Homo sapiens: one gene and its partners. The protein of the gene in region 1 interacts with the protein of each later gene in a pairwise test. Each region holds a gene or a part of one and is shown in the gene's direction. Other genes may lie near its edges.

Region 1 (3,487 bases):
TTGGCCAGGCTGGTCTCAAACTCCTGACCTTGTGATCTGCCTGCCTCGGCCTCCCAAAGTGCTGGGATTACAGGCGTGAGCCACCGCACCTGGCCACATATGCTAATTTTTAGAGACATTGAATATAGTCAAAAGCAAAACAAGAAGATACAAAAAAAATGACTGATTATGGCAAGCTTCACTATGACTTATCATTACCTATCAGTAACATAACCTTGATAAATCATTTGAGTTTGAACACTAAAATTTCTTCCAAAACCATGTGCATTCTGCCGCAGTTATTACTACCATATTAGATTCCCCCATAAACAGGAAGGAAGGTCCAAATAAGCTCAGTGGAATAAGAAAAATTAGAAGGAATCGTGAGTTTTGTTTTGTTAATGTGGCAGGTTTCTCCATGTGCCTGGTGGGCAGATGCAGAAATGCCTTCTCCATTTTAGACGGTAGAGCTGGTCCTTACTTTGGACACAAACAGACAACATAATTTAGAGAAACTAGAATTGCCTTAGTTATCATGTTTAGTTTGGGGAGTAAGTACATATGCCCCTTCTGAATTTTGGAATTTCATTTGATCCGCTTGCTCTTTCCTTTTTTTTTTTTTTTTTTTTTTTTTGAGAGAGAGAGGGTCTGGCTGTGTTGCCTAGGCCAGAGTACAGTGGCACAATCATGGCTTACTATTACAGCCTTGCTGCCAGCCTCAAGCGATCCTCCCATCTCAGCTTCCTGAGTAGCTGGGAGTATGTACACGCACCACCACGCCTGGCTAATATTTTGATTTTTTTTTTACACCATGCCTGGCTAATATTCTGATTTTTTTTTTTTTTTTTTTTGTAAAGACAAGGTCTCATGTTGCCCATGCTGGTCTTGAACTCCTGGGCCCAAGCAATCCTCCTGCCTTGGCCTCCCAAAGTGCTAGGATTACAGTCATGAGCCACTGTCCCTAGCCGTCTGTGACTTTTTACCAGATTAACTTGCTTGATTCTCCTTGTTCTTTTTGATTTTGCTCCTGTGAACTTTGGTTCAGTAGCTGATTTAGTCACATTCATGTAGTGTTAAAAAGACTTTGTCATCATGTGAGGTTTTTCTTTTTCAGTAATGACCATCCCAAAGTTGGGGCCTCACTTTACTCACTCACACTTCATACTGATACATAGTTAAGACTCTTATTGAGAGGAGGACAAAGGTCTAAAGAGGAAGGCAGGTCTGTTTTTCCAGTTGGGGGCACACCATGCTCTCTCTGTTGAGGGGTAGCAAGCTGTAGCTCGAGGGCAGTGTGAAAGTGAGCCTTCAAGAGGTACAAAGAAAAAATGAAAGGTCAGTGGAGAAAATGTGGTATTTATAGCAACAAAAGAAATCTCCTTGCGAACTTCATTGAGCTTATGTCTAAAGATAGCAGTAGGGAGACCAGGGAGAAGAAAAGTTTGTAAAAGAAGTAAAATCAAGACACAAAGGTTTCCTGGCCCTTCTGTCCCCATCCTAGGCCATTCGTTTCCTCCAGTGTCACATGTAACCTTGTAGGTTAAAAAAAAAATGCATTTTTAAAGAGGAAAAAATAAATAAAATGTAACAGGAGAAAACAAGGCATTTGTACTTTTGCCACTGATTGCATTCCGAATAGTGAGCTCCTTGAGGTTGACCTGCTGCCTGACTGTGCCTGTCCTGTCATTGCAGGATGATGTGGGCAGCAGGGACCGTGGCTGCCATGTCCAGCATCACGTTTCCGGCAATCAGTGCCCTCGTCTCTCGGAATGCAGAGTCAGATCAGCAAGGTGAGGTCACTGCCCCCCACTTGTTTTTCTCCTTCAACGGGAGACCTCCCTGCTAGAAGCAGGAGCAGCTCTGAGTTCTCCCCATCAACAGCAGGAGCCGACAGCCATATGGCCCCTTTTATCATACCTATTTACTTTGGCAGATAGGAACATTCTATTTTCCTCTCTGCTTTGATCTTACACTTATATTTTTTAAAGCTAGACTTAGCAGTTCAGATTGCTAACAATTAGAAATAGAACTATTCATTTTCCCTTTTCAGTTTTGATACATCTTTTCTTCTTTAGTGTCACAATTAAGCAGACTATAATCACATTTTAACAGATGTCTATTAAATAATGAAAAACCAGTTAACCACGAGTTACTTAATTACTTTATTCACTAATTATTTGGAATAACTCAAAGTCTTTGAGCTTAATTTAGAAAATAGTTTGAGAGTAGTAAGAAAAAGTCTGTGTGGTTGTTGATAGATGTTGAGTGAGAGATGAAATTAAAATTAAGACTGCTATGTGGAAAATAGCATTCTACCATCTAGATCCATATCCCATCCTTCCCATGCCTCTGCTTCCCTTCCTGTCCTGTCTTGTCCTCCCTCCATCCCTTCTTCCCTCTTTTCCCACCCTTCCTCCCCCCACCCCCCACCTCCTACCCCTTACAGGGTCTCACTGTCACCCAGGCTGGAGTGTAGTGGTACAATCTTGGCTCCCTGCAGCCTCCGTCTCCTGGGCTCAAGTGATCTCCCAGTCACCCTCCCAAGTACCAGGGACTAGAGACGCACACTACCATGCCCAGCTAATTTTTTGTATTTTTAGTGGAGATGGGGTTTCGCCATGTTGCCCAGCCTGGTCTCGAACTCCTGGGTTCAGTCTGCCTGCCTCGGCCTCTCAAAGTGCTGAGATTACAGGTGTGAGCCCCCATGCCTGGACTGCTTTCCTTTCAAGCAGTTCCCATGGCTAGATTTAATCTCTTTCCTTCTCTATCTCCTAATGGCTCACCTTATTGTATTCAGGAAGAAGTAGACAATTTTAGAGGGAGAAAAATTTTTTAATGCCTAAGAGCCCTTTTTTTTAAAAGTTTTAGTAAAAAACTATATTGGAAAGGATGGTTTATTCATTGCATTTTTTTTTTCTATATCAGAAGTTAGGTATCTTACTCAGATTCATTGTTAAATATTGTCCCTTGAAGACCACACATTCTGTATGTCACTCCTGGCTACAGTAACTCAGTTGGTTTGCATCCTTAGGGAGGTGCTGTGTCTGAAGTGAAGATGTGATGACCCATCCGTGGAGGACTGTCACTGCCTTGGCATCTGACAGACACCGTCCTGTCATTTGGGGCATGGATTTTCTTTTGACTTTTTATACTTATTCATGTCAATATACATGTTTCTGAATGTCAGCATATAAAAGTTTTGGAACACATTGTATTAGGCTGAATTATATACTACCATTTTTGATTTACAGAAACATTCATTTCATACAGTTCAAGCTAACTTTTTACTTGCTATGTTAGAAAGCAGAGATATTTAGGAATTTGGCACTTCTGGGTTTTTCAGTGTAGGTCTCTAGGGAGATAGGCTGGAATACACCTGTGAAGATGAAGTCTGCCTACTGGGGACTGGTCTGTATTCCTGACACCAGGGCTGCCAGAGGTGAAGGGCAAGTTTTTGTTGTGAAAGCACCAGTAAATGACCAGAGCAGGGAAATCTCAGTTGACAGAA
Region 2 (2,586 bases), on another chromosome or scaffold:
TTCCCCAAGGTTACACAACCAGCACGTGGTGGGGCTGTGATTCAAACCAGGGTATCTGGGACTCCACACAGCTCTTCACTACCAGGCAGTATTGCCCCCACTGCCTGTCTCTGGGGATGGTCTCTGGGAGAATATTTCAGAGTCCATCGAAATTTTCAAATATGAAATAAATATGTCTGCATGTGTGTGGATGACCAGAAATGTCAGATGAACTATTGGGCTGGACTGATAAAGAAGCATTTCTATGATAATCAACTGTAGTTGGAGCATCTACTGGTGCAGGCAGACAACCCAAATACAAAAGGAAAAGGTGGAAATGAACGCCCAGGCGTTCAAATCTCTATTCTTAACCACTTATGCTAAAGGCAAGAAGATTCCAGTTCCCAAGGGGAAGTTGGTTAAACTTAAGTAAGATTATAACACTTGGTCTCACAGGTTTAGAAGAGAACGCTCAGTCCCGGCAGGAGTCCACGCGGAGGCTCATCCTTGTTGGGAGAACAGGGGCCGGGAAGAGCGCCACTGGGAACAGCATCCTGGGCCAGAGACGGTTCTTCTCCAGGCTGGGGGCCACGTCTGTGACCAGGGCCTGCACCACGGGCAGCCGCAGGTGGGACAAGTGCCACGTGGAAGTCGTGGACACTCCGGACATTTTCAGCTCCCAAGTGTCCAAGACAGATCCTGGCTGTGAGGAGAGAGGTCACTGCTACCTGCTCTCGGCCCCCGGACCCCACGCGCTGCTCCTGGTGACCCAGTTGGGTCGGTTCACCGCCCAGGACCAGCAGGCGGTGAGGCAGGTGAGGGACATGTTCGGGGAGGACGTCCTAAAATGGATGGTCATCGTCTTCACCAGGAAGGAGGACCTGGCCGGGGGCTCCCTGCACGATTACGTGAGCAACACAGAGAACCGGGCCTTGCGCGAGCTGGTGGCCGAGTGCGGGGGCCGGGTCTGTGCCTTTGATAACCGGGCCACCGGCCGGGAGCAGGAAGCCCAGGTGGAGCAGCTGCTGGGGATGGTCGAGGGCTTGGTGCTGGAGCACAAGGGCGCCCATTACTCCAACGAGGTGTATGAGCTGGCGCAGGTGCTGCGCTGGGCAGGCCCTGAGGAGCGGCTCCGGCGGGTGGCGGAGCGCGTGGCAGCCAGGGTGCAGAGGAGGCCATGGGGCGCCTGGCTGTCGGCCCGGCTGTGGAAGTGGCTGAAGTCCCCCAGGAGCTGGAGGCTGGGCCTGGCCCTGCTGCTGGGGGGCGCGCTCCTGTTCTGGGTGCTGCTCCACAGGCGGTGGTCGGAGGCCGTTGCGGAGGTCGGGCCTGACTGACAGCGCAGGTCCTAAAACTGAAGGCAACTTGGTTAAGGGAGGCTGAATTCTTGGAGCTGAAGGGAAAACTTCATTCCAACGGAAGGAATCCTGTAGTTTCAGGCATAGTTTTAATGACACAGAAAACTTTGCTGCATCACCTTTGCAACTTTGCCAAAGCTCAGAGTTCACTTTTTAAGTTTTTAACTCATTTTAAATGATGTGTATGCAGAGTTTTAAAATAAATTCGTCTAACAATAACTTCCTTTGGTAGTTTTGGTAGTCTAATGTCAAGTAGCTTGTAGTGGGGACAAACGCATGGCACAGGGAAAACAAGTGCCATTATTTTCGAGCTTTTTAAAAAATTTAGACTGCCCCTCCTTGATAATTTTCTAGTTCTTATACATGGGTAGATAGGTTCCTTTGTGATCCTTGTAGACTTTTAGCATCAATAAAAGAAATGTGGGGGTTACACACGTGAATGTTACTTCTGAGACATCAGTTTATAGTACAATGATTTACTACCAAAAAGATGAATGTAACTGTACTGTTACAAAGTGGAAAATAACAGTTTCCACTTTTCTAGAACATATTATGGTTCATGGCATTCCAAAATGAAGTAAGGGCCGGGCGAGGTGGCTCACGCCTGTAATCCCAACACTTTGGGAGGTCGAGGCAGGTGGATCACCTGAGGTCAGGAGTTCGAGACCAGCCTGACCAACATGGCGAAACCCCATCTCTACTAAAAATACAAAAATTAGCCAGGCGTGATAGCACTCGCCTGTAATCCCAGCCATTCAGGAGGCTGAGGCGGGAGAATCACTTGATGCAGTGAGCCGAGATCGTGCCACTGCACTCCAGGCTGGGTGACAAAGCAAGAATCTGTCTCAAAAAAAAAAAAAGAAAAGAAAAGAAAAAGAAAAAGAGTAGGATATTGGGAAAATAACATATAATATCTTCTATATGGTTATTCATATTTTTATCACACACACACACACACACACACACACACACAGTCTGTATCTCGAGCTCCTCTCTGGTTATGGAGAAGAGGCAGAGCACCAGGTGCATAGGCTGAGACTGCAGACACCTGAGCATCCTATGCTGTGAGGCGAAAGCATCCGGTTTTTTCGGGATGGGCCTGTCCAGGAAGGTTCTCGAATGCCACGTGATTAGAAAATTTGCCGCTGACTGGTTGTGCGAATCAAACAATAGGATTTCCTTATTTCTATTTCTGAGCATAATGAGAACCCTTTAAGGGAACTCATTGTCTTTAAATCAGCCAGCCTCTAGT
Region 3 (3,485 bases), on another chromosome or scaffold:
GGTTGAAATTTTTTGAAAACTGCAATCAATGATCAAAGAATGATCTAGGTAAACATCGATTCCTTGTGGCAACATTTTAATATTTTCAAAGACAAGGTACAACTGGTAGAAAAAAAATACCCTCATGCATCTTTTTCTTCTAATTGTGGTAAAATATATGACATAACATTGGCCATTTTAGCCATTTTTCCTTTTATTTTTAGTTGACACATAATTGTACTTATTTATAGGATACAAAGTGATATTTCAATACATGCATATAATGTGTAATGATCAAACCAGGGTAATTAGCATATCCGTCACCTCAAACATTTATCATTTGTATTGGGAACATTCAAAATCCTCTCTTCTAGCCTTTTAAAAGTATACAATAAATTGTAGTTAACCATATTCACCTTACAGTGCTACAACACCAGAAGTCATTCCTCCTATCTATAATTTTGCATCCATTAGCCAATCTCTCTCCATCCTCCCCTCTCCCTAATCATTACCAGCCTCTAATATTAATATCTGCAACACTACTCTCTACTTCCATGTGCTCAACTTTTTTAGCTCCCATATATAAATAGGAACATGTGGTAATCTTTCTGTGCCTGACATTTCACATAACATAATGTCCTCCAGGCTATCCATGTTGTTGCAAAGGACAGAATTTCATTATTTTTATGGGTGAATAGTATTCCATTGTGTGTGTGTGTGTATATATATATATATATATTCCATTGTGTGTTATGTATGTATAGTATTCCATTGTGTGCATATATATGTATATATGTGTGTACATATATATATACATAATATATATTCTTCTGCACATGGAAATCCAGTTTCTCCAGCATGATTTATTGAAGAGGGTATCCTTTCCCCAGTGTATGTTCTTGGTGCTTTTATAAAAAATCAGGTGACCTCAGATCAGACCCAACTACATCATACCTTCTTTCGAAATGTGCAAGAAACCTACTAGAAATTCTTATTGTTAGAGTTTCAGATTTATGTCCTGGTTTATACTGCCACATTCATTCTTGGAGGTGAGTACATTTCGATCTTGGTCCGGCTGCGCAGAGAGTCAAAGCAGGAAAATCACAGATTCTTCCCAGCAGTCTACAGCCTACACAGCGGCATTTGGTGCGATGGGATGGAACATGCTGTATCTCTATTCCATGTGGGGGTAAAGTGGGTGGCCTGAAATTTCCTGTGTCTGCCTGCATGATGCAAAGCTCACAGTTCAGAAGCTTAAGGACACACTTCATATCATCCCATCTGTTCTGGTTCAGTGCATAAGAATCTAAGTCTCTGAGGAAGGTAGCATAGTGTGCAGTTCACTGGACCAAAAGCTTTGGCTGCACCTCTTCTGGAAAGCCTGGCCATGGGGCTCTTCATGATCATTGCAATTCTGCTGTTCCAGAAACCCACAGGTAAACCAAACCAGAAGCTCACTCAAATCAACAGTGGGATGGAGCATTTTCAGGAGCCAAAGGGAACTTCATAATCCACACTAAAGGGAAATAGAGCCCCCAAAGATGGCTAAAGTTTATCCAACATCATCAGAAATTTCCTCTTTCTGGAGCCTTATTCCATGTTACTATCCTTAAAGAGGAGTACTCACTGAGCTAAAAAGAGGTCATAATTTCTTCTGGGAAAGATGTGTTGTTATAGAAAGGAATGATGCCAATATCTAGGGATACCTTTATGTCTTTGGATATGGTTTTTACTCTGATGCTCAGCTATATTTCCTTTTACTCAAATATATATATGTGTGTGTGTGTGTGTGTGTGTGTGTGTGTGCATGAATAGAGGAAGAAGCAAATTTTGGAGTTAGGTTTAAGAAACATGCCTTCAATATCTACTAGTTTGTCAACTTTAAGTAGTGAAGACTCTAGGAGCCTCAGTTTCCTCATCTATGGAGATAATGACACCTGGTTAACAGGGGTTTTATTAAATGATATAACCTATGTGAAGCTTGGCACATACTGAGAACTCAAAAATTAGAGTTTCCTTTCCTCTTTCAAAACCAGATTTCTTACATGTGTCCCTTATTATAAGAATAGTAATGGCCTATTCCTGACCCTCTACATTCCTAAGACCCAATAGACTACTACCTTACTGGATAACATGAAAGTCATTCTTGACCCTGATAGTGGGTTTGAACTCAGGAGAACAGTTTGATTCAGACATAAACACATAGTAACAATACATTGTTCTCTGGGCATCAGAGGAGGTGCAGTAGAAGGTAGTGCTCTGGGAGCATTCAGGATGCAGGCAGATTTGCTGAGGTTCCTATGTAGAGCATAGTTCCATAGCCTAGAATCAAGGGTTCAGCTCCTTTATTTTCTCAGATAAGATCTTATGTTCTTGGCAGAGTCTATCAGATGTTAAGGGAGGCCTAAAACCTCACAGGACCTAAATATAAGTGATCCAGTTAAATACAAACACTGAGGTTGACCTTGTCGGAAAATCCTCTTCAGAATATATGAGGGTCTGCCTTGTGGATACCCCATACCCCTAATTCCTACAAGCCTCCTCTGTCTTCCCCAAAACCAACGTGCCTTCAGTCTCAAACACTGATATTGTTCTATTGCTCCTTTCTGTGTATAGTAACCGAACAACTTAAGAAGTGCTGGAATAACTATGTACAAGGACATTGCAGGAAAATCTGCAGAGTAAATGAAGTGCCTGAGGCACTATGTGAAAATGGGAGATACTGTTGCCTCAATATCAAGGAACTGGAAGCATGTAAAAAAATTACAAAGCCACCTCGTCCAAAGCCAGCAACACTTGCACTGACTCTTCAAGACTATGTTACAATAATAGAAAATTTCCCAAGCCTGAAGACACAGTCTACATAAATCAAATACAATTTCGTTTTCACTTGCTTCTCAACCTAGTCTAATAAACTAAGGTGATGAGATATACATCTTCTTCCTTTTGGTTTCTTGATCCTTAAAATGACCTTCGAGCATATTCTAATAAAGTGCATTGCCAGTTTTCTGTCTCATTTTGTTCTTTAACCAGGGGTTGAACACTCATTATATACTAGGTAATGAATTGATAAGAACTCAGAACCTCTCCTTGAAAAGGGGATATGACAAGTACACTAAAAAAAAAAAGTCCTATAGTGTGGAAGTCTGGAATAAGAAACTCAGAAACACTGACATGTAATTTAGGAGAGGGAAAGGTGAAGCAAATATTCAGGGGAAATTCATGAGTAAGTTTAGGAATAAAGCAGTGTCTTGTAGTAAATAAGTAAATAGTAAAGCAGTAAATAAGTAGGATTTCCATGGATGAGGTTTGGTAGGGAAGGCAATTTGAGTGAACAGAATGGGAGGAAATTGGAAAAGACAGAACATTTCAAGACACTATACATGCACTTTGTTTGGATGAAGAACAGAGCACTCAAAGTTGAACTATGGGGGAAGTCTGATTTCCTAAGCTCCTGTGTACCAGCAGTGAACTGGGAAGACGGAGATAAATAAGATTCCACTGTT
Region 4 (2,833 bases), on another chromosome or scaffold:
AACCCCTGACCACAGCTGTTCCTACAGTGGGAAGGGCCTGCTCATCAGGGGCTGTGGCTCCTGGTCCCGCTGCACCAGGGAGGTGGGGTCTTACCGGGATCAATAGGCAGGCAGTCACTTTCTCTTCATAGGAATCTTGTCGATTGGCCTGGCTGCTGCCTACTACAGCGGAGGTAAAGCACCCCCCGCCCCACCCCCCCATGACTGTCTCAGCTGTTTGGAAAACAGAGAAAAGAAGGAAAAACTGTCATTTGTGACTGTCCATGGGGCGGCCTTTAGGATCGGCACCTCTGCCCCTTGATTGCTGGCGGGCACCGCGCCCTCCATGCGCTGCTGTTCTTCCGCACGCCCATCCTGCCCAGCGCTCAGCCCACATTTCACTTCTTTTTTTTTTTTTTTTGAGACGGAGTCTCGCTCTGTCACCCAGGCTGGAGTGCAGTGGCGGGATCTCGGCTCACTGCAAGCTCCGCCTCCCGGGTTCACGCCATTCTCCTGCCTCAGCCTCCCAAGTAGCTGGGACTACAGGCGCCCGCCACTACGCCCGGCTAATTTTTTGTATTTTTAGTAGAGACGGGGTTTCACCGTTTTAGCCGGGATGGTCTCGATCTCCTGACCTCGTGATCCGCCCGCCTCGGCCTCCCAAAGTGCTGGGATTACAGGCGTGAGCCACTGCGCCCGGCCACATTTCACTTCTTAAGTCTTCTGTGTTTTTGGGTCATCAAATATTCCCGGAGAGATGCTCTTGAGGATCTAAGATCCAGCTGTGGGATGAGGTGTACTTCCCACCCTGCCACAATCACTGGGCCTGCCCAGACGGGCAGAGGCCCTGTGCGCCCCACCTGCCTCTCTCACGTGGACTCTGGGGGTCAGAGCTGGGTGGGGTGTGCCGCGTGTGGGTCCTGAGTGGCCAGGGCAGGGTCAGCAGCACAGGAAGCTGCCCAGGGGGTCCTTGCAAGCGTGGGCTCTGGCCAGCGTCTGGGGGAGGCTGTGCTAGGCGGGGCCTCCCGTGGGCATGTCCCTGGAGCTCACAGGCTGGCGCCCTATGCCCATCTCCAGATAGCCTGGGCTGGAAGCTCTTCTACGTCACAGGCTGCCTGTTTGTGGCTGTGCAGAACTTGGAGGACTGGGAGGTAAGGCCGGCTCGGGTGCGGGACAGAGTCCAGGGCTGTTCAGCTCCTGGGTTTTTTGCAATGGGAATGAAAGGAGGAGGAAGGGCCCTGGGTGGCCTAGCGCCTCCCCGTCCTGAAGCGTTGGTCCCTGCTTGGAGGTCTCCGTTCATCAGGACATGGCCCCTGCACTCATCTGGGACCGTTCTTGGCCAAGGAATTCCCCGAAGGCATTTTTCTCTTAGAAGCTCTCCATGACTATCTTCACCAAAGTGCTTTCTTCCCAGAGTTGCCACAATGGGATGCGAGTCAGCTTTCCCCGTGGCCGGCCCTCCCACCTCGGAGCCCCTCATGAGTCCTTTCAGCCTGGCCCAGTGCTGCCCTCTGACCTCCATGCCCTCGTTTGCTGGTTCCACTGCCTCCCTGCACTTGTTTTGCCTGCAGGGTGGAGCAAGCGCCTGCTGCACCTGCCCACCTCTCCATTTCCCAACAGGAGTCGGGTTGGCTGCCGATATCCGGCTCTGACAGAGCAGCACCTGTGGCTTCAGGGGTTTGGGTTCTGACTGGGAGGGTCCCCAGCCCCCCTTCTTGAGTGTCCACCCTGGTGAGGGTGGGGGTGAGGCCCCAGCGGCCACGGGGCCCCCGTTCCTGGAGGTTCATGGTGGTCAGTGCATGTCGGTTTCCAGGAAGCCATCTTCGACAAGAGCACAGGGAAGGTTGTTTTGAAGACGTTCAGCCTCTACAAGAAGCTGCTGACTCTTTTCAGAGCTGGCCACGACCAGGGTGAGTCGTGGGGAGCGTGGGGACATGGGACACGGCCACAGAGGCGGCGCACTTGGGCGTCTGGGTGACTCACGGGGCCTAGAGGGGGGCCTGGAAGTGCCTTTGGTCCAAGCTCACCTGCTTGGTGACCAGGGTTGTGTCCTGCCCGCTGGAAGCAGGATCCCACGGATACGCCCCACCTGCTCACCTGCTCAGCAGGGTCCTAGAGCCTCCTGGGTTCTTTAGAGGTTTGGCCCCTGGGGAGAGTGGGAGGAGCAGGGGTCTGAGGAGCAGGGGTCTGGCAGAGCAGGGGTCTGAGGAGCAGGGGTCTGGCCCACCCGGGCTCGGGCAGCCTCTGTTTAGCTGCATTCTCCCGTCTGCCTGGCAGCCACTTGTCCGCAGGTGCAGTCTGGCCCCAGCGGCAGGTCACAGGACGGGGCAGGGAGAGCCATGGCAGCCCGTGGGCGTTCTGGAGTGGGGCCACCTGGCTTCTTGCGGGCCTTGGCGCTGCTCCAGCTTTCCTGTGGGTTCTACTGGGCCTGCAGTAGGGGCTGGATGGTCCGAGGAACTCCCCACCCTTGAGCCTGGGCACTGGCCCAGCTGTGGTCAGTACCAGTTTCCTGTAGATGCTGCCGCACAGACAGACAGAGGCCCCGGGGTCCGGCCGCCCATGCATAGCCCCAGAGGGGACAGATTCTGGCGACCAGAGTTGCTGGGCAGTCTTGGGTTTAGTGCCGCAATGCTGCACTTCTGACAGGCTGCTTCCTGGATCCCTGCAGGGACCTGGCCAGGGCATTGGCCCCAGGTCACCTGTGGCTTTGGGGAGAGCAGTTGCAGGGCTGGCCTGGGCTGTGGGAGGCAGCTGTGCCGTTTTCTGACAGCCATTGGGACCGCCCCAGTACCCGAAGAGGTGGCTGCCCTGAGTTGCCACGGGAAACTGCAGGGTGGCCCTGGCTCAGCAGCCA

What was found. Proteins that work in one complex are often made in the same cells at the same time.
Region 2: the proteins of SLC71A2 (region 1) and GIMAP1 interact in binary tests that used the Homo sapiens proteins (3 or more experiments, as listed by UniProt).
Region 3: the proteins of SLC71A2 (region 1) and DEFB127 interact in binary tests that used the Homo sapiens proteins (3 or more experiments, as listed by UniProt).
Region 4: the proteins of SLC71A2 (region 1) and CYBC1 interact in binary tests that used the Homo sapiens proteins (3 or more experiments, as listed by UniProt).

What each region holds. Positions count from the first base shown.
Region 1 is NC_000009.12:94,454,569-94,458,055, forward strand, and holds part of SLC71A2 (hippocampus abundant transcript-like protein 1), read left to right. Parts: intron 1-1,671; coding exon 1,672-1,769; intron 1,770-3,487.
Region 2 is NC_000007.14:150,719,613-150,722,198, forward strand, and holds part of GIMAP1 (GTPase IMAP family member 1), read left to right. Parts: intron 1-435; coding exon 436-1,313; 3' UTR 1,314-2,586. Other genes in the region: GIMAP1-GIMAP5 protein, read left to right, coding at 436-794. UniProt on the Homo sapiens protein: May regulate lymphocyte survival. Required for normal levels of mature T-lymphocytes and mature B-cells.
Region 3 is NC_000020.11:156,179-159,663, forward strand, and holds DEFB127 (beta-defensin 127 preproprotein), read left to right. Parts: upstream 1-1,275; 5' UTR 1,276-1,366; coding exon 1,367-1,415; intron 1,416-2,595; coding exon 2,596-2,846; 3' UTR 2,847-2,985; downstream 2,986-3,485. UniProt on the Homo sapiens protein: Has antibacterial activity.
Region 4 is NC_000017.11:82,444,920-82,447,752, reverse strand, and holds part of CYBC1 (cytochrome b-245 chaperone 1), read left to right. Parts: intron 1-131; coding exon 132-173; intron 174-1,056; coding exon 1,057-1,130; intron 1,131-1,792; coding exon 1,793-1,889; intron 1,890-2,833. UniProt on the Homo sapiens protein: Functions as a chaperone necessary for a stable expression of the CYBA and CYBB subunits of the cytochrome b-245 heterodimer. Controls the phagocyte respiratory burst and is essential for innate immunity.